2 separate regions of the Homo sapiens genome follow, and region 2 is linked to region 1. Evidence: fine-mapped expression QTL. A gene starts in region 1. The other region holds a variant in brackets. All regions are shown on one strand. Distances are from middle to middle. Region 1 holds the start of MADCAM1-AS1 (MADCAM1 antisense RNA 1). Region 2 holds the start of LOC124904608 (a long non-coding RNA gene).

What was found. PIP is the estimated chance that this variant, and not a neighbour inherited with it, causes the effect.
Region 2: its variant is fine-mapped to the expression of MADCAM1-AS1 in nucleus accumbens (GTEx, PIP 0.99).

Annotation. Positions count from the first base shown.
Region 1 is chr19:502,619-511,687 of GRCh38, forward strand. It overlaps MADCAM1-AS1 (MADCAM1 antisense RNA 1), which reads right to left and starts at 5,271. Exons shown (of 3, transcript XR_936221.4): 1 at 4,758-5,271. It overlaps MADCAM1 (mucosal vascular addressin cell adhesion molecule 1), which reads left to right. Exons shown (of 5, transcript NM_130760.3): 5 at 2,127-2,725. The coding sequence ends at 2,347. TPGS1 (tubulin polyglutamylase complex subunit 1) reads left to right here and starts at 4,879. Exons shown (of 2, transcript NM_033513.3): 1 at 4,879-5,226. The coding sequence starts at 4,889. RefSeq lists enhancers at 3,955-4,812, 4,685-5,024, 7,862-8,161, 8,460-9,069 and silencers at 4,025-4,154, 8,011-8,305.
Region 2 is chr19:485,058-494,126 of GRCh38, forward strand. LOC124904608 (a long non-coding RNA gene) reads left to right here and starts at 4,109. Exons shown (of 2, transcript XR_007067072.1): 1 at 4,109-4,648; 2 at 4,809-5,013. It also overlaps a transcript of CIMAP1D not described here. RefSeq lists enhancers at 596-1,114, 4,420-4,921 and silencers at 3,749-4,378, 4,449-4,498. The variant C/T (reference allele first, on the strand shown) is at 5,024.

The DNA of each region.
Region 1 (9,069 bases):
AAATGCTTGTCCCCCAGTGCCACAAAGAAATAGCACTCAAACAAATTTAATTCTCTCAGCAAGGCCACTTTTACTTTCTGCAGAAAGGGTGCTCATTGTAGACGGAACAATGGCGAGAGCACAGCTGAACAAAGGAAAAGCAGACATATTTATCCCTCACACATTTGGGTCGCCCTTACTGCTGTGTCCTGCATCCACTGGCTGGAGCAGGATATCACACTCTTAAACTGATACCCAGTTTGCTAACAACCTAAAACTTTCCTAAGTAGGTAAGCGCAAAGGAGGACAAACAAGGAGAGGAAGTTGCTTACGAAAGATTTGAGGAAGCAGTAACATTTCCAAATAAGGAAGGGGCATAAGCTATGAGCTAAGACTTCCCTGGGACTCTCCAGATATGCCTGGGTAAGCCCAAGCAACTAACTGGGCTAAAGTGTAAGAACTAATAGCTGATAGGAGGCTTTAGAGTAAGAAGCTATTATTTCTAGTGTCTATGTCTATTATTTTATTTGTAAATCAAGACGAGCTTTGAAGAGGAACTTTTCTACTTCCTACAGGTAATTTCAAATTTAAAAGTAAAGGCAAGGCATGAACCCGGGAGGTAGAGCTTGCAGTGAGCCGAGATCGCGCCACTGCACTCCAGCCTGGGGCACAGAGCGAGACTCCATCTCAAAAAAAAAAATGGGCCGGGCACGGTGGCTTATGCCTGTAATCCCTGCACTTTGGGAGGCCAAGGCGGGCGGATCACGAGGTCAGGAGATCGAGACCATCCTGGCTAACACGGTGAAACCCCGTCTCCACTAAAAATACAAAAAATTAGCCGGGCGTGGCAGCGGGCGCCTGTAGTCCCAGCTACTCGGGAGGCTGAGGCAGGAGAATGGCGTGAACCTGGGAGGCGGAGCCTGCAGTGAGCCGAGATCGCGCCACTGCACTCCAACCTGGGAGACAGCAAGACTCCGTCTCAAAAAAAAAAAAAAAATTAAAAGTAAAAATAATGTGGTCGGGCCAAGCATGGTAGCTCATGCCTGTAATGCCAGCACTTTGGGAGGCCGAGGCAGGAGGATCACTTGAGCCCAGGAGGTTGAGGCTGCAGTGAGCTGAGATCACACCTGGGTGACAGAGCAAGACTCAGTCTCAAAAAAAAAAGTGTTGGCCAGACACGGTGGCTCATGCCTATAATCCTAGCACTTTGGGAGGCCAAGGAGGAGGATCACCTGAGGTCAGGAGTTCGAGACCAGCCTGGCCAACATGGTGAAACCTCATCTCTACTAAAAATACAAAAATTAGCCAGGTGTGGTGGCATGTGCCTGTAATCCCAGCTGAGGATTACTCGGGAGGCTGAAGCAGGAGAATCACTTGAACCCGGGAGGCGGAAGTGGCAGTGAGCTAAGATCACGCCATTGCACTCCAGCCTGGGGGACAGAGCAAGATTCCATTTCGAAAAAAAAAAAAAAGTGTGGTCATACATTTCGCAGAGCCCAATATATCCCAAGCATTATCATTTCAACAGGTAATCAATATAAAATAGTATGAAGGAGATATATTACATTCCTCCCTTTTCCCCAGACTAAGTCTTCAAAGTGCAGATTGTAGGCTCAGCACCCTTCATGGTGGTGAGCCGTCCTCTCTCCGGTCTGCCCTTTTTTTTTTTTTTTTTTTTTTTTGAGAGACAGAGTCTCATTCTGTCACCCAGGCTGGAGTGCAGTGGTGCGATCTCAGCTTACTGCAACCTCCACCTCCCGGGTTCAAGTGATTCTCCTGCCTCAGCCTCCCAAGTAGCTGGGATTACAGGCGCCTGCCACCATGTCCAGCTAACTTTGTATTTTTAGTAGGCACAGGGTTTCACCATGGTCAGGCTGGTCTCGAACTCCTGACCTCGTGATCCACCCGCTTTGGCCTCCCGAAGTGCTGGGATTTCAGGCGTGAGCCACCCCGCCTGGCCTGGACTGCCCATTTCTAAACTCTAAGGTGCTATGCGCATTTCAAAAGGGTCATGGTAAAGTCCTTTGTGAAATTTCAGGGAACGTGGTAACTTTGGAAGCACGTGTAGCCTCTGAGGGGCTCCTCCCTTCCCAAGCCTGCAGAGGCCTGGAGGGCTCTGACCGGGGTCTCCTGCACTCTCTCCCCAGCGTCCAAACCTGCGGGTGACCAGCTGCCCGCGGCTCTGTGGACCAGCAGTGCGGTGCTGGGACTGCTGCTCCTGGCCTTGCCCACCTATCACCTCTGGAAACGCTGCCGGCACCTGGCTGAGGACGACACCCACCCACCAGCTTCTCTGAGGCTTCTGCCCCAGGTGTCGGCCTGGGCTGGGTTAAGGGGGACCGGCCAGGTCGGGATCAGCCCCTCCTGAGTGGCCAGCCTTTCCCCCTGTGAAAGCAAAATAGCTTGGACCCCTTCAAGTTGAGAACTGGTCAGGGCAAACCTGCCTCCCATTCTACTCAAAGTCATCCCTCTGTTCACAGAGATGGATGCATGTTCTGATTGCCTCTTTGGAGAAGCTCATCAGAAACTCAAAAGAAGGCCACTGTTTGTCTCACCTACCCATGACCTGAAGCCCCTCCCTGAGTGGTCCCCACCTTTCTGGACGGAACCACGTACTTTTTACATACATTGATTCATGTCTCACGTCTCCCTAAAAATGCGTAAGACCAAGCTGTGCCCTGACCACCCTGGGCCCCTGTCGTCAGGACCTCCTGAGGCTTTGGCAAATAAACCTCCTAAAATGATACAAACGTGTCAGTTTTCTCAGTTGACACCCACTCCGTGGAGAGGAGAGGTCTGAGGGCTCCGGACAGCAGAGGGTTGACTGTGGGTCCTGCCCTGATGGCTCCATCTCCCTCATCCCACAGTCCGGGGCTGGAGAAGAAAGTGTTAGAAATGCTTGTTCCCCGGTGCCGTAAAGAAATAGCACTTGAATATAAATGTCATTTCCTCAGCAAGGCCACTGTTTTACTTTCTGCAGAAAGGGTACACTGGCCAGCAGTTTTGCCACGAGAGTATCCAGAACAAAGGAGACAGGGTCATTTATAACCTGACGCGTCCACCCTACTGCTCTGTCCGGTTTCCATTGGCTGGAACGGGACGGTTTCCATTGGCTGGAACGGGACCTCACATTCTGTATTTATCCCGATCGGCTAGCAGCTTGGAACTTTTAAAAAGAGGCAAAGGCAGAGGAGAACAAAGGAAGGAAGAAGTAGCTTGTGGAATGCTAAGAAAGGTAAAAACACCTTCAAATAAGGAAGAGGAACAGGTTATGACCTAATGCTTGCTTGGACCAGTATAAGCATGCCAGGGCAGATATTTAGCCTACATTGTGGGCACTAAGAACATAAAGTATGTTGATTTCCTTATTACATTATATATATTCAATATAACATTAACAATTAATTAACAAAGAATGTTAGCACAGGTCTTTTGTTTGTTTGTTTTTTGAGACAGAGTCTCGCTCTGTCGCCCAGGCTGGAGTGCAGTGGCGCGATCTCGGCTCACTTGCAAGCTCCGCCTCCCGGGTTCACGCCATTCTCCTGCCTCAGCCTCCCGAGTAGCTGGGACTACAGGCGCCCGCCACCACGCCTGGCTAATTTTTTGTATTTTTAGTAGAGACGGGGTTTCACCGTGTTAGCCGGGATGGTCTCGATCTCCTGACCTCGTGATCCGCCCGCCTCGGCCTCCCAAAGTGCTGGGATGACAGGCGTGAGCCACCGCGCCCGGCCTACCACAGGCCTTTGAATACATTTTGCTTCTAAGAGAAGTTACTATTTATTCCTAATTAGATGGGGAGGAAAGTCTCATTTGAAGAGGAACCTCTACTTCACGTTTTACAAAGGGCATTTGGTCTGCCCGCCAGAGATTCCTGTGCTGGGAGGATGGTGGAACGGTCCCCCGGCAAACAGCTCTCATTGCCCCCTGCCCGGGGCAACGCCCCTGAGGGACGGGGACGGCACCCAGCAAGCTCTGCCCGGGGCGGGGAAACGCGAGGGCTTAGTGGTTTCCTCGGTGAGAAGCTTAACCAGGAGTCCCCGAAAGCAGTGAGGGAAGATCCACAGAGGTCGCCTGGGGAAACACACCCAGAGGCGGCTTATGGAGGAGACTGCTTGTGTTTTGAGGTGGCTGCGGGCTGCGGAGGGTTGGGAGGGCCGGGAGGGCGGCCGGAAGCGAGGTCAGGCGATGAAGGCCTGGAGGTGCCAGCCCGGGGGCCCTGGAGAGCCATGGCAGAGTTTACAGCTCTGGAGGCTGCGGTGTCAGAAAGCTCCCTCTGGCGGTCAGGGGGTAACAGCGCGGGATGCTCGCCCGTGTGGCCGCCAATAGGGGCTCAGCGCAGCTGCAGCGGAGCTGGGGAGGGGGCTTCTCCCACGAGGTGAGCTACGCACTCAGACGTTGACTGAGTTAGGCGGAAGGCCAGGCTGAGCTCGACCCCCAGCACCAAGGCTCAGAGATGAACATGAGAAAAGGGTCTGGGGGCCGGGCGCGGGGCTGGGTCCAGCAGTCCTGGGCAGGTCCAGCCCCGCGCATGCTCCGTCAGGCTTCTCTGCTAACCAGGGAGACTGGTTGCTAGGAGACCATGCTAATGAAGGACTCGCTCACTACCCAAATGGCAAGCAATCCGGCTTTGTGCCAGAAACGAAGCACTTCCGAGGCAGCCATTTTGGAGTCTGGCAAAATTCAGGACCGAGGCCAAAGCCAGGAGAGCCAATCAATATACACAAAGAGGGAGGAGAAGAGAGAGTGCCAATAAGGACACAAGGAAAGTGGTAGCGTACCCTTGTCACTTCCCAAAGTCTCCCAGCGGGATACCGGTGCCCTCTGCCCTTAATCAAGATGGCCGCCTTGGGGGGGCTCTAGCGCACAGTGGAATATGGCGGTGCTTCCGGTCCCGCTGCCCTCAGCGAAGATGGCGGCAGTGGAGAAGCGGCGGCAAGCGGTACCACCGCCGGCCGGTTTCACGGACAGCGGCCGCCAGTCGGTATCCCGGGCGGCGGGGGCGGCCGAGAGCGAGGAGGACTTCCTGCGGCAGGTCGGCGTGACGGAAATGCTACGTGCGGCCCTGCTGAAGGTGCTGGAGGCGCGGCCCGAGGAGCCGATCGCCTTCCTGGCTCACTACTTCGAGAACATGGGCCTGCGCTCGCCTGTAAACGGCGGCGCCGGGGAGCCCCCGGGCCAGCTCCTGCTGCAGCAGCAGCGCCTGGGCCGCGCGCTATGGCACCTTCGCCTGGCCCACCACTCCCAGAGGTGCGCAGTGGGCCGGCTTGGGCGGGTGGGGCAGCGATGGACTTCAACTCCCAGCATGCCGCGCGCGGCTCCCTACCCGCAGCGCCGGCGCAGGGGCCCGGGGCTTGCTGGGAGTTGTAGTGCGCGATGCCTTCTTGGGTGGGATGGATCGGACAAGGTGGGCTGGAGGGTCCGGGCTTCGGTCCGGCGCTAGGCAGCGCGCTGCATGCGGCGCGAGTCCTTCTGGCCGGCTTCGCCTTCTGTGATGCCTTTTTGCAGGTGCTGAGTTTCCCCTTGCAGTTCATGATTTTCAAAATCGTGCAGCTCAAGAGGACTTGGCCCGAGGTCGCAGAGCCAGCCCCCGAGCCAGGTCCTCCTAGTCGCCTCCTTAGCAGCCTCATGTTATCCCCGTCCATTCAGCCAGAACGTGAATATTTACAGAGAGCAGCGCAGTCACCCAGGGCCCCCATCTTAGGGGACAGGCTCCCAGCGGGCAGGTGGGGATTCCTGGAAGAGCCTGGCGATGTGCGGGCGGGTTGCAGGGAAGAGGCCCAGCAGGTGCAAATTTAGACCCCGAGTGTGGGGCACACGGGAGGCGGGAAAGCCACGGAATTTGGCTGAAGCATGCGAGGCTGCAGGTGCCTACGCGCGGTGTCCCCTGGCTGGGGCCAGTTCTGAGCCCAGGGAAGGTGGTTGGGGACTATCTGTTGGCGTTGGGGATGGATGGGCTGATGTCTTTTGTTGGGGGGGGGGTCCCCAGAAGCGGAGCCTGAGGTAGGCATTGTGTGTGCAGGTGATTTTACAAGGGGGTGCGCCCAAGAGAACCCAGGAAGGGGGTGGGAAGAGCAGGCAGGGAAGGATGCCAAGCAAAGGTGCCCTTTCAGCCTCATAACCAGGGCATAAGCGCCCACCATGGCAGCCCTCGCCAGAGTCCCAGAGAAGTTCGGGGGGAGAAGAGAGATGGGGAGTGTCCCCCCTACCACGTTCAGGGTGCACAGGTGTCCAAGATCATACTCAGATAAGGGTGGCAGGGTGTTGGGTACCTGGACAAGGAGCAGACTTGCTCCGGTGGCCCAGTGGCTCTGAAGGCCCCGCCCGATGATTTGCTGGAGCCAGGTGGGAGGGGAGCGGGCAAGGGCAGGCCCAGAGGGTCAGTGGAGCCGTTTACTGCGATGGAAGGCCCCTGGTTTGAAGAAGCTGCCAGAGCCACTTGCGGATTAAGTTGGAGGCTGGGAGGAGCCTGGAGACAGGAAGGTAGAAAGAAGCGTCTGCAACTGACGTGGGGCCAGGACAGAAGACTGAACTGGAGGGGTCCTGAAGTCTTCAGGAGAGATGAGAAGAGCTCAGGACCCCACTCTGAGGGCACCTAGCCCAGAGAGCCCACCAGAGAGGGTGAGAACGTGAGACCAGAGGTGAACGGGGAGCAGGAGGAAGATGGCCTCCCAGGACATCCGGAAGAGAATCTCCCAAGGAGGAAAAGGGGTCAACAGCAGGCCCACCACGTATGGTTGTTCAGGTTGAGCACTGCACAAGCCACTCACCCCGTAGACACTGCAGATGAGGATATTTATATTTATATTAATTTCCGAGGGCTGCTGGAACAAATTACCTCCAACTTAGTGGCTTAAAACAACAGAAATTTATTCTCTCACAGTTCTGGAGGGCAGAAGTCTGAAATCGGAGTGTCAGGAGGACCACACTCCCTCTGGAGGCTCCAGGGAAGGAGCCTTCCTTGCCTCCCCAGCCTCCAGTGGCGGCCAGCAGTCTTTGGCTTGTGGCCACATTGCTGCAGTCTCTGCCTCCGTCGTCACGTGGCCTCCTGTGTGTCTCTGTTCTGTGTTCCCTCATAAGGACACCACTAGGCCCCACCCTACTCCAGTGTGACCTCAACCGCCTACATCTGCAAAGCTGCTGTCTCAAATAAGCTCTCAGTCTGAGGTTCTGGATGGGCGTGAGTTTGGTGGGCACCAGTCACCCCAGGACAGGAGTGGAGCCATTGGCTGGAAGAGTTCTCATAGCAGGGACTCAGGGCAAGGGTGGTGCTGGTGGCAGATGCATCCCGGCCCTGGGCTCGCCTGGGCTCCCCAGAGACACAGCCAGTGGGGAATGCAGAAGACAGGTGCACAGACCTGCGTGGCATCTGATTCTGTGCTCATGGAGCCAGGCCTGCTCCCGTCCTCCCAGCAGGCAGCTCCGGCCGCCCCTCCATCCTTGGACCGTCAGGAACCCCTGAGGTCACCTGACCAGTCAGGAAGAGAAGCCCAGAGCAGCCGGGCGCGGTGGCTCACGCCTGTCATCCCAGCACTTTGGGAGGCCGAGGCGGGCGGATCACAAGGTCAGGAGATCGAGACCATCCTGGCTAACACGGTGAAACCCCGTCTCTACTAAAAATACAAAAAATTAGCCGGGTGTGGTGGCGGGCGCCTGTAGTCCCAGCTACTCGGGAGGCTGAGGCAGGAGAATGGCATGAACCCAGGAGGCGGAGCTTGCATTGAGCCGAGATCGCGCCACTGCACTCCAGCCTGGGCGACAGAGCGAGACTCTGTCTCAAAAAAAAAAAAAGAGAAGCTCAGAGCCTGGCAGATTTGTCCCCACTCAGTCCAGTGTGTTGACCCCCAAAGGCTGAGGGGCTGACTGGGGCTGCTCCTGAGAGCATCACCGTGGTAGGCTGGGGGAGAAGTCACCCCAGATCCTCCCTGGCACCTTCTTTTGAGAAATGGCAAGCTCCGGCCGCCAGGGCTGGTGATGGCAGCCACAGTGTCCCCCTCCTGCCACCTTCCTGGTCGTCTCCAAGGCCCCCTGGAGCACACACACAGACGTTACATGACTTGCTGAAGGCCACACGGCCACCGAGGGCAGAGCTGGGGTCAGAGAGCCCCAGAGTGCAGCCCCGGAGGCCTCCTCAGCCACCACGTTGCTCATCCTGGCAGCAAGGGCTGCACTGCCCCCTGCAGGTCACTGCCAGGAAAACGTGCACGAAAACGAAGCCCCAGCTGATCTGGGCCAGGGTTCCCCCGACTCGTCCTCTGGGGGCCGTCCTGGGTACTGCAGGGCCCTGAGCAGCGTCCCTGGCCTCCACCCACTCCTTGCCAGGAGCTCCCCGAGTCGTGACAACCACAGATGTCCCAGACACCGCCCGGCGTCTGCTGGGGGCAGGAGTGGGAAGCAGAAGTCTAAGGTGTAGGGTGGCTCCTGTCTCTTTCTGGAGACGTTCCATAAATAGAATCTTTCCTGTATTAACAAATGCTCACACGCCTTACAAACCGCTCTGTGTAGGAGCCGACACAGACGGAGCCCTGGCTGGGCTCCCGCTTTCCATTTTGCAATCAGGGAAACCAAGGCCCAGAGGCCACCGTCACAGGCAGAGCTGACGTTCCAGCCCCGGCCTCCTCCTCCGAGCCCAGAGCTTGCTGCCTTCCTCTTCCTCCTCCTCCCTCACCCGATGATTCTGCTGGGAGCCGCCCGGGAGCCCAGGAGGGGCGGGTATGCGGCCGCCTTGAAGTGGGCTGTCACCTTCCTGTCTCCTGCCGTCATCATGGCTGTGATCTCACCAGGCTGTAATTACCTCTTTGTGTGTCTTCCTGCCCCTCAAGGCAGCTGTGGCTGAGCTGCAGCCCTAATTACAGCCCAAAATAAGCAGGTGGGGCCTCCCACACGTATGCCAGCTGCTGTCCTGAGCACCTGGCTCCAGCCCCGTTCTCCCGTCCTCACAAGAACCCCCACTCCGTAGATGCACAAGGCCAGGTGCAGAAAAGGAGAGTGCACACAGCTGGGAGGGGCAGACGAACACCCGAGGCAGGCCTGGGCCAGGCACAGAGCCCTGCACACCGAGGGGCCGCGTGGATGCTTGCGGAGCTGGACCAG
Region 2 (9,069 bases), 18 kb before region 1:
TTTTCTGAGACGCTGTGGGGTGAAGGGGAGTGAGAGGAGGGGAGGGTCCTGGAAGGGCGGGTGCAACCTCAACCCAGCGGAGGACCCTGCTGACCTGCTTAGTTGTTTATGGAGGGTCATTGCCGTGCTCTACCACGTAACACACGTACACACACACACACAGGTGCACGTTTACACCACGTGGGTGCGCACGATGAGGCACACACAGGCAGGCGCGCACACACACGCGTGCTCACATAGGAACACGAAGAGGCAGGAGCCGGGCGTGCCCGAGCCCCGTGGCGCCCTGGGCATCCCAAACACCGCCTGCCCAGAACAGGTGCGCAGTGAGTGCCTGCTGAGCCAGTGAGTGGAATGAAGCTCTACAATAGTCCAGATGACAGACATGACTGCTGTGGCTGCTGCCGATCCAAGTCCCACCGTTCTTTTCTCTAGAGACAAGGTCTCACTCCACCATCCAGGCTGGCGCGATCACAGCTCACTGACGGTGGAGAAGGGTGATCAGAGAATGGTGGGAATGAGGCGGCCCTGACCTCCTGGGGTTAGCGATCCTCCCACCTCAGCCCCCTAAAGCACCGGGAGGGCAGGTGTGAGCCACGGTGCCAGCCCCAAGTTCCCGACATTCTTTCCTAAAACACATCCTCCGGCTGCAGATGAGGGTGCGACAGCTGGGAGGCAGCTCCCAGGAGGCCGGGTTCCTCCGATGACCTGCTGTTTCTGTGTCCCTGGCACACGGCACAGCAGGAGAGGGGGAGGCCAGGTGTTTGTGGCTGCTGCCACCGGCCCGTCCAGGGTCAGCTCATGCTCCCAGCCTCCGTGATCTGCCACTCCCCACTTCCCTGAGGCTGCTCACTGCTGTCCTTTGTCCGGCGGCCAGCCCCCTGACTCAGACTCACGCGCCCTGCTGCTGCCCGCCCCTTTGTTCCCGGGAGACTCTAACAAGGAAGGCTTGTTCTTCCCGCAAGGACACAGAGAACCTGCCAGCTCCCCTCCATCCTCATCCAGAGAGAGCCTGCTGTCCCCGTGGGACAGTGAGGACAGGACCAGCTCTCAGGCTCTGCTGGGCACCCAGCCCATGCCTGGCAAGTCCTCATGTTACAGACGAGGACACCGAAGCTCAGAGGAAGGAAGGGCTTGTATTCCGAGGATTTGGGGGGCTGGAGAGGGGTCCTAGTGGGCTCTGCTGTAGCCTGCAAGGTCCTACAAGCCCAGGTCCTTCCTGCCCTCTCTGGCTGCGTTGGTCCCTCCGGACTCAGCCTCTGCACTCACCGTACATTCTGCCTGATACACCCGGTCCAACTCCCTCCCCCTCCAGGAAGGCCTTGCTCAAATCTCTCCACCTCCAGGATCTTCCTTGGACCACTGATTGATTGATTGATTTTTTGTTTCTGTTGTTTTTCTGAGATGGAGTCTTGCTCTATCACCCAGGCTGGAGGGTAGTGGCGCAATCTCGGCTCACTGCAACCTCCGCCTGGTGGGTTCAGGCGATTCTCCTGCCTCAGCCTCCCAAGTAGCTGGGATTACAGGCGCCCGTCACCACACCCAGCTAATTTTTGTCTTTTTTAATAGAGATGGGGCCGGGAGCGGTGGCTCACGCCTGTAATCCCAGCACTTTGGGAGGCTGAGGCGAGCAGATCACGAGATCAGGAGATCGAGACCATCCTGGCTAATACAGTGAAACCCCGTCTCTACTAAAAATACAAAAAATTAGCCAGGCGTGGTGGCAGGCGCCTGTAGTCCCAGCTACACAGGAGGCTGAGGCAGAAGAATGACGTGAACCCGGGAGGCGGAGCTTGTAGTGAGCCGAGATTGTGCCAGTGCACTCCAGCCTGGGCGACAGAGCAAGACTCCATCTCAAAAAAAAGAAGGAAAGAAATAGAGATGGGGTTTCACCATGTTGGCCAGGCTGGTCTCAAACTCCTGACCTCAAGTGATCCGCCCACCTCAGCCTCCCAAAGTGCTGGGATTACAGGTGTGAACCGCCATGCCCGGCCTATCGGGACCACAGATTTGATCCTGCAACCTGCCTATCATCATGCTGCCTGCCCCCTTCCCTGCCTTTTCCTTCTTCCCAGCAGCACTCTCCACGCCTCACCTATTGCAGCGGCGGCTGGAGCTGCTCATGCCAGCTCCTGAGCCCACTGTGAAGTTCGCGGCGATCTGTGAGCTGGTTGGCTCATGTTGGCAGCCACGATGGGAGTATTTACAACACAGGGGGCGGCGTGCGCTGCAAGTGAGGGCCTTTTCCCTTGGAGAGCCAGCTGTTCAACATTTCTCCGCACAGCACCACTTCGGTATTATGCCCGAGGTTTATGGCATAACTAGCCTGGCTCATGGTCTCTCTTCCCTGCTGCTCACTAGAATGTAAGCTCCTTCGGGCCGAGGTCAGCCCACCTTGCACTCTGCTGTCTCCTTGGCACTTAAAACAACGCTTGGCATACAGCAGGCACTCAATAAAGATGTGCTGGCAGGGCGCATGACGTGTGCCTGTGGTCCCAACACTTTGGAAGGCCGAGGCGGGAGGATTGCTTGAGCTCAGGAGGCGGAGGTTGCAGTGAGTGGAGATCGCACCACTGCGCTCCAGCCTGGGCCACAGAGTGAGACCCTGTGTCAAAATAATAACAAGCATGAGGCAGGGGGGATCAGCTGAGGTCAGGAGTTCGAGACCAGCCTGGCCAACATGGTGAAACTCTATTAAGGGAGGAGACCATCCCTCATATTGTCTTATGCCCAATTTCTGCCTCCAAAGAAAGAAGTAAAAACTAAAAGGCAGAAATGAAATCCACAGGCAGACAGCCCGGCGCTGTGCCCTGGGCCTGGTAGTTAAAGAGCGACCCCTGACCTACTGGGTTACGTTATCTATAGATTCCAGACATTGTATGGAAAAGCACTGTGAAAACCCTTGTCCTGTTCTGTTCCGATCTGATTGCCGGTGCATGCAGCCCCCAGTCACGTACCCCCTGCTTGTTCAATCGATCACGACCCTCTCACGCGGACCCCCTGAGAGTTGTGAGCCCTGAAGAGGGACAGGAATTGCTCACTCGGGGAGCTCGGCTCTTGGGACAGGAGTCTTGCCGATGGCCCCGGCCGAATAAACCGCTTCCTTCTCTAACTGGGTGTCTGAGGAGTTTTGTCTGCGGCTCTTCCTGCTACACTATCTCTACTAAAAATACAAAAAAAAAAGGCCGGGCTTGGTGGCTGAAGCCTGTAATCCCAGCTCCTCGGGAGGCTGAGGCGGGCAGATCACGAGGTCAGGAGATCGAGACCATCCTGGCTAACACGGTGAAACCCCGTCTCTACTAAAAATACAAACAATTAGCCGGGCGTGGTGGCAGGCGCCTGTAGTCCCAGCTACTCGGGAGGCTGAGGCAGGAGAATGGCGTGAACCCGGGAGGCGGAGCTTGCGGTGAGCCGAGATGGCGCCACTGCACTCCAGCCTGGGCGACAGAGCGAGACTCCGTCTCAAAAAAATAACAAGTAAATCAGTGTGGAACTAACGAGCGCCCTCGTCCCTCGCGCTGCTGGGACTGACGTCCGGGTACCCCCAACGCAACCACGGCCTCCCGGTGACCCTGACCCGCGAAGCGGGCCGGAAGCCCCGCAGCCCCTACTCCAGAATCCGCGTCCCGGAACCTGGATCCCCGACCGGGCCCTGCGGCCCCGACCCCCGCAGCGAGCCCAGCGCCGGGGAACAGGACCCGGCTTCCCAGTCTCCGCCCGGGGACACCAGGCTCCTTGGGCGAACGGCCAGGCCTCCCGGGACCAGCGCGCTGGAAGACTCGCGGCGGGGACGCCCCCTCGGCCGCCCCGTGCCGGGCCCCACGCAAGGGCAGCCGGGGCGCCCCGCAGTGGGAACGCGAGGAGACCGACCACGGGGCGAGACAGCCGCCAGGGCGTCCGCGCCGCCCGCCCCAAGCCCGCATCAGCCCGCCACGAACTCGGAGGACCGCGGGCTAGAGCGGCCCCGCCAGCGCGCAAAGCCTTGTGGGCCACACGCCCCGGCGCCCCGCGCTCCGCGGCATGGCGGGAGTTGTGGTTCAGCTGCGGGGGCCGCGCGGGAGCTGCCGGGAGCTGTGGGCGGGGTGGGTGCGCGCGCAGTGGCAGGGCCAGTGAGCTGCACCCGCGGAAAAGGAGGGGGAGCGGCTGGTCAGCTGCGCCCTGCGGGTCGAGAATGTCATCAGCAGGGATGGCGGCGCTTTGAGTGCTGAGCGCGGCCCCGACCGGGACCCCCTACCCTTGACCCACCCTCGCAGGCCGAGCCCCGACTCCCGACCCGCCGTCGCAGCCCGCGGCCCCGACCTCTGACCCGCCCTCGCAGCCCGCGGCCCCGACCTCTGACCCGCCCTCCCAGCCAGACCCTCTACGCCCGACCCGCCCTCGCAGCCCATGGCCCATCGGCCCGGCAGTGGACGCAGAGCCTCGGCCCCGTTCCCTCCCCGGACCCCCCGGACCCGCTCTCCGTCCTCCCTGCAGAGCCGAGGGCCTTGGCCCAGCCCCGCATCCTCCCCGACCGTGCTCGATCCAGCCCGGGTGTGCTGCACCCGAAACAGGCTCCCGGGGGCCGTCGGGCCTGTGGGTGACCGTGCAGGCCAGGATCTCCCCCTTCCCAGTCGTGACAACCACAGATGGCCCCAGATGCCACGTTAGGGTTAGTGCCTCCTGGGGGCGGGATTGCGGCCGGGGGAGAACCACCCTCCCAACCCGTTAGGAACTGCAGGGACGGAGAGCGCGCTCGGGATGTCCAGCACTCAGCGCGGGTTGGGTGGCGAATGGAGAGCGAGTCGTCCTCAGAGGCCGCCGGCCTGCAGGCGAGAACCCTCCCAGCCAGGAGGCTGCGGCTCTGCCTGAACCCCGACCCAGGGCGAACACCCACATTTGGCCCCTGCCCGGTGCTGAGAGAGGCCAGAGCGGCGTCCCCAGAAGCGGAGCGGGAGCCCCACGTCCGGCGGCCACGATAGAAAGAAGAAAAGAAATGGGTGGTAGTAAGTAAAATAAATCGTATGAAACATAAAACAAGGCCGGG[C/T]GCGTTGGCTCACGCCTGTAATCCCAGCACTGTGGGAGGCCGAGGCAGGTGGATCACCTGAGGTCAGGAGTTTGAGACCAGCCTGGCCAACATGGCAAAACCTCGTCTCTACTAAAAATACAAAAATTAGCCGGGCGTGGTGGCGCATGCCTGTGGTCCCACCTACTTGGAAGGCCGTCACAGTAGAATCACTTGAACCCGTGAGGTGGAGGTTGCAGTGAGCCGAGATAGCACCACTGTACTCCAGCCTGGGCGACAAGAGTGAAACTCCAGCTAAAAAAAAAAGAAAGAAAGAAACGTAAAACAAAGATGTATCTTTATCTTATTTAATCCACTGTGTCCAAAATACTATCCTTTCGATTCATAAGCAATACATGTTGAGATGCTGTACACTCTTTGTTCACGCTGAGCGTTCAGAGCCCAGTGTGTATTTTGCACATTTGTGTCCACTTCCTAATTCTCACAGGAAATATTCAACCTGCACTTCAGGCCACTAAAGTTCTAGTTGGAAAAGTGGCTTCACAAACCCTAGCTGTTGCACATGTTTTCCAATAGCTGCGTCCGTTTCTAAGTTGATATTCGTGTTAGAAAGGAGGCTTCAGGGCCAGGCGCGGTGGCTGACACCTGTAATCCAGCACTTTGGGAGCCCAAGGTGGGCAGATCACTTGAGGTGGGGAGTTCAAGACCAGCCTGACCAACATGGGGAAACCCCGTCTCTATTAAAAATACAAAAATTGGCCAGGCGCGGTGGCTCACGCCTGTAATCCCAGCACCTTGGGAGGCCAAGGCGGGCGGATCACCTGAGGTCAGGCGTTTGAGACTAGCCTGACCAATATGGTGAAACCCTGTCTCTACTAAAAATGCAAAAGTTAGCTGGGCGTGGTGGCAGGCGCCTGTAGTCCCAGCTACTCCGGAGTCTGAGACAGAATTGCTTAAACCTGGGAGGCAGAGGTTGCAGTGAGCTGAGATCGTGCCACTGCACTCCAGCCTGGGTGACAGAGTGAGGCTTTGTCTCAAAAAAAAAAAAAAAGTCTACAAATACAAAACTTACCTGAGCATGGTGGCACGTGCCTATAATCCCAGCTACTCAGGAGGCTCAGGCGGGAGAATCGCTTGAACCCAGGAGGCGGAGGTTGCAGTGAGCCAAGATCTCACCACTGCACTCCAGCCTGGGCGACAGAGTGACTCCGTCTCAAAAAAAAAGAAGGCTTTTAAAGAAACAGTTTAGTGCCCTTTATGGTGTTTGCGACGTCGTGTAAACACCAGCTCTCTAGTCTCAAACCCGGCGAGGGCGGTTCATAGACAATTTCAGTCTCTCGACGCGACGCCGTGTGGCTTGTGCCCTTCTAGCCACCTAGACCCTCGGGAGAGGCCTGTGCGGCTCCTGGCTGGGCCCCCGTCTTCAAAGCAGCTTTTGAGTGGCCCTTTGACCCGTGAGACAGGGCCGTGGAAGCTGGGGTGAGCCTGGAGATGCCCCCGGGAGCACCAAGGCGTCAGAGCAGCTGACCAGGGCCCCAGGCCTCGCCGCTTCCCCAGGCAGAGCCGGCCCCAAGCCCCGCCTCTCCCCTGGGCGGAGCCAGCCCCAAGCCCCCCTCCCCTGGGCGGAGACAGCCCCAGGCCCCGCCTCTCCCCTGGGCGGAGCCAGCCCCAAGCCCCCCCTCCCCTGGGAGGAGACAGCCCCAGGCACCGCCTCTCTCCTGGGCGGAGCCAGCCCCAAGCCCCCCCCTCCCCTGGGCGGAGACAGCCCCAGGCACCGCCTCTCCCCTGGGCGGAGCCAGCCCCAAGCCCCCCCTCCCCTGGGAGGAGACAGCCCCAGGCACCGCCTCTCCCCTGGGCGGAGCCAGCCCCAAGCCCCCCCTCCCCTGGGAGGAGACAGCCCCAGGCACCGCCTCTCTCCTGGGCGGAGCCAGCCCCAAGCCCCCCCCTCCCCTGGGCGGAGACAGCCCCAGGCACCGCCTCTCCCCTGGGCGGAGCCAGCCCCAAGCCCCCCCTCCCCTGGGAGGAGACAGCCCCAGGCACCGCCTCTCCCCTGGGCGGAGCCAGCCCCAAGCCCCGCCTCTCCTCTGGGCGGAGCCAGCCCCAAGCCCCCCTCCCCTGGGCGGAGCCAGCCCCAGGCCCCGCCTCTCCCTGGGCGGAGCCAGCCCCAAGCCCCCCCTCCCCTGGGCGGAGCCAGCCCCAAGCCGGCTCTCACCATAGTGTGCCTCCTGCCCCATGGACCCCCATCCCCCCAGACCCCTCCTGATTAGCTCAGGTGGGGCTGCCGTGGAGACCACACCAGCATCATCGCCTGAGGCTCCATGTCCAATTTCCCCGGGGCTGCTGGAGACTGAGCACTGCCCCAGCCCCTCACCAGGCGGTCACTGACCCCAGGGAGGCCTGTCAGCTCTGCCCAGGCTCAGCGACGTGGTCAGCTCGGCCAGCCTGCGGGGAGGGACTCGACTCGGACAAGGGTTCCTTCAGGGACCTGTGCCAGGTGGGCCACGAAGATCCTTCCTTCCTCCTTTTTTTTTTTTTTTTTTTTTTTTTTTGAGACAGTCTTGCTCTGTCGCCCAGGCTGGAGTGCAATGGTGCGATCTCGGCTCACTGCAAGCTCCGCCTCTCCGGGTTCACGCCATTCTCCTGCCTCAGCCTCCTGAGTAGCTGGAACTACAGGCGCCCGCCACCACGCCCGGCTAATTTTTTTCGTATTTTTAGTAGAGACGGGGTTTCACCGTGTTAGCCAGGATGGTCTCGATCTCCTGACCTCGTGATCCGCCCGCCTCGGCCTCCCAAAGTGCTCGGATTACAGGCGCCCGCCACCACGCCTGGCTAATCTTTTTTGTATTTTTAGTAGAGACGGGGTTTCACCGTGTTAGCCAGGATGGTCTCCATCTCCTGACCTCGTGATCCACCCGCCTGGGCCTCCCAAAGTGCTGGGATTACAGGCGTGAGCCACCGCGCCCGGTCGATCCTTCCTCCTTAAACCTGATGCGGGAGCCAGGCCCACCCCCATCGTGGGCTTCATGGCTACAACTCCACACGTACACACGCACACACGCATGCACGCACACAGACGCATGCACACACACACATGCATGCACATGGCTACTTATTGAACCCCCTCCTGCAGCCTCCATCAATCTCATTCCTCCCCCACTCTCCTTGCGACCCTCAGGTCTGGGGTCCTTGGACTGGGTTCAAGCCTTGTCCAACAAGGAGGCCCTGCCGTGATGGGGGTCCTCACTCCAAAGAAAAAGCCATGAGGACCCCAGAACTGACCAGTGGGTGGGAGACAGGAGAGCTGGCCCAGCTGGGTCAAGAAGGGTCTGTCAGGGCCTGGGGCGTGCTCCGCTCCTGGACAACGGCGCCCTCACAGCCCCTTCCCCTCAGGGCAACACAGTCATCTGGAACGCTCCCTCGGCAGCTGTGGACAGGGAGGCCAGGATGTGGGGTCTGGGGCTGGTGGGATGGCTGGGACCCTCCATGGGAAGGGGGGCTTCCTGGCTGGGACCCTCCATGGGAAGGGGGCTTCCTGACGGAGGCCGCCGAGGACAATGCCGGGAAGGGGATTGATGTTGGGGGCGGGGTCGAGTCTCCCAAGGACAAAAAGGAGGTCCCCGTTGCCGGCGGAAGATACGGTGTAGGCCTTCCTGTGGGACTAGGACTCAGACCCAGGGGTCTCAGGGTCCTCCCCGGCCCTCAGGCTGCTGGCCCACCTCGGTCTCTCCATCCCTCTGCCTCTGCCTCTCTGTGTCTCTGTCTCTGTCTCCCTGTGTCTCTCTGCCTTCTCTCTTCCTCGCTCTGTCTCTGTCTCTCTGTGTCTCTATCTCCCTGTGTCTCTCTGCCTTGTCTCTCTTCCTTGATCTGTCTCTCCCTCTCTGTGTCTCTGTCTCCCTATGTCTCTCTTCCTCACTCTGTCTCTGTCTCTCTGTGTCTCTGTCTCTCTCTCTCTGTCTCTGTGTCTCCCTCACCCCCGCCTTCCCCACCTCTGGCCGTTGAAACCTGCGGGTCCCTCTGCCTCTGGGAACCCTCCCTCCTCCTTCCTGTGTCCATCCCACCTGCCCTGT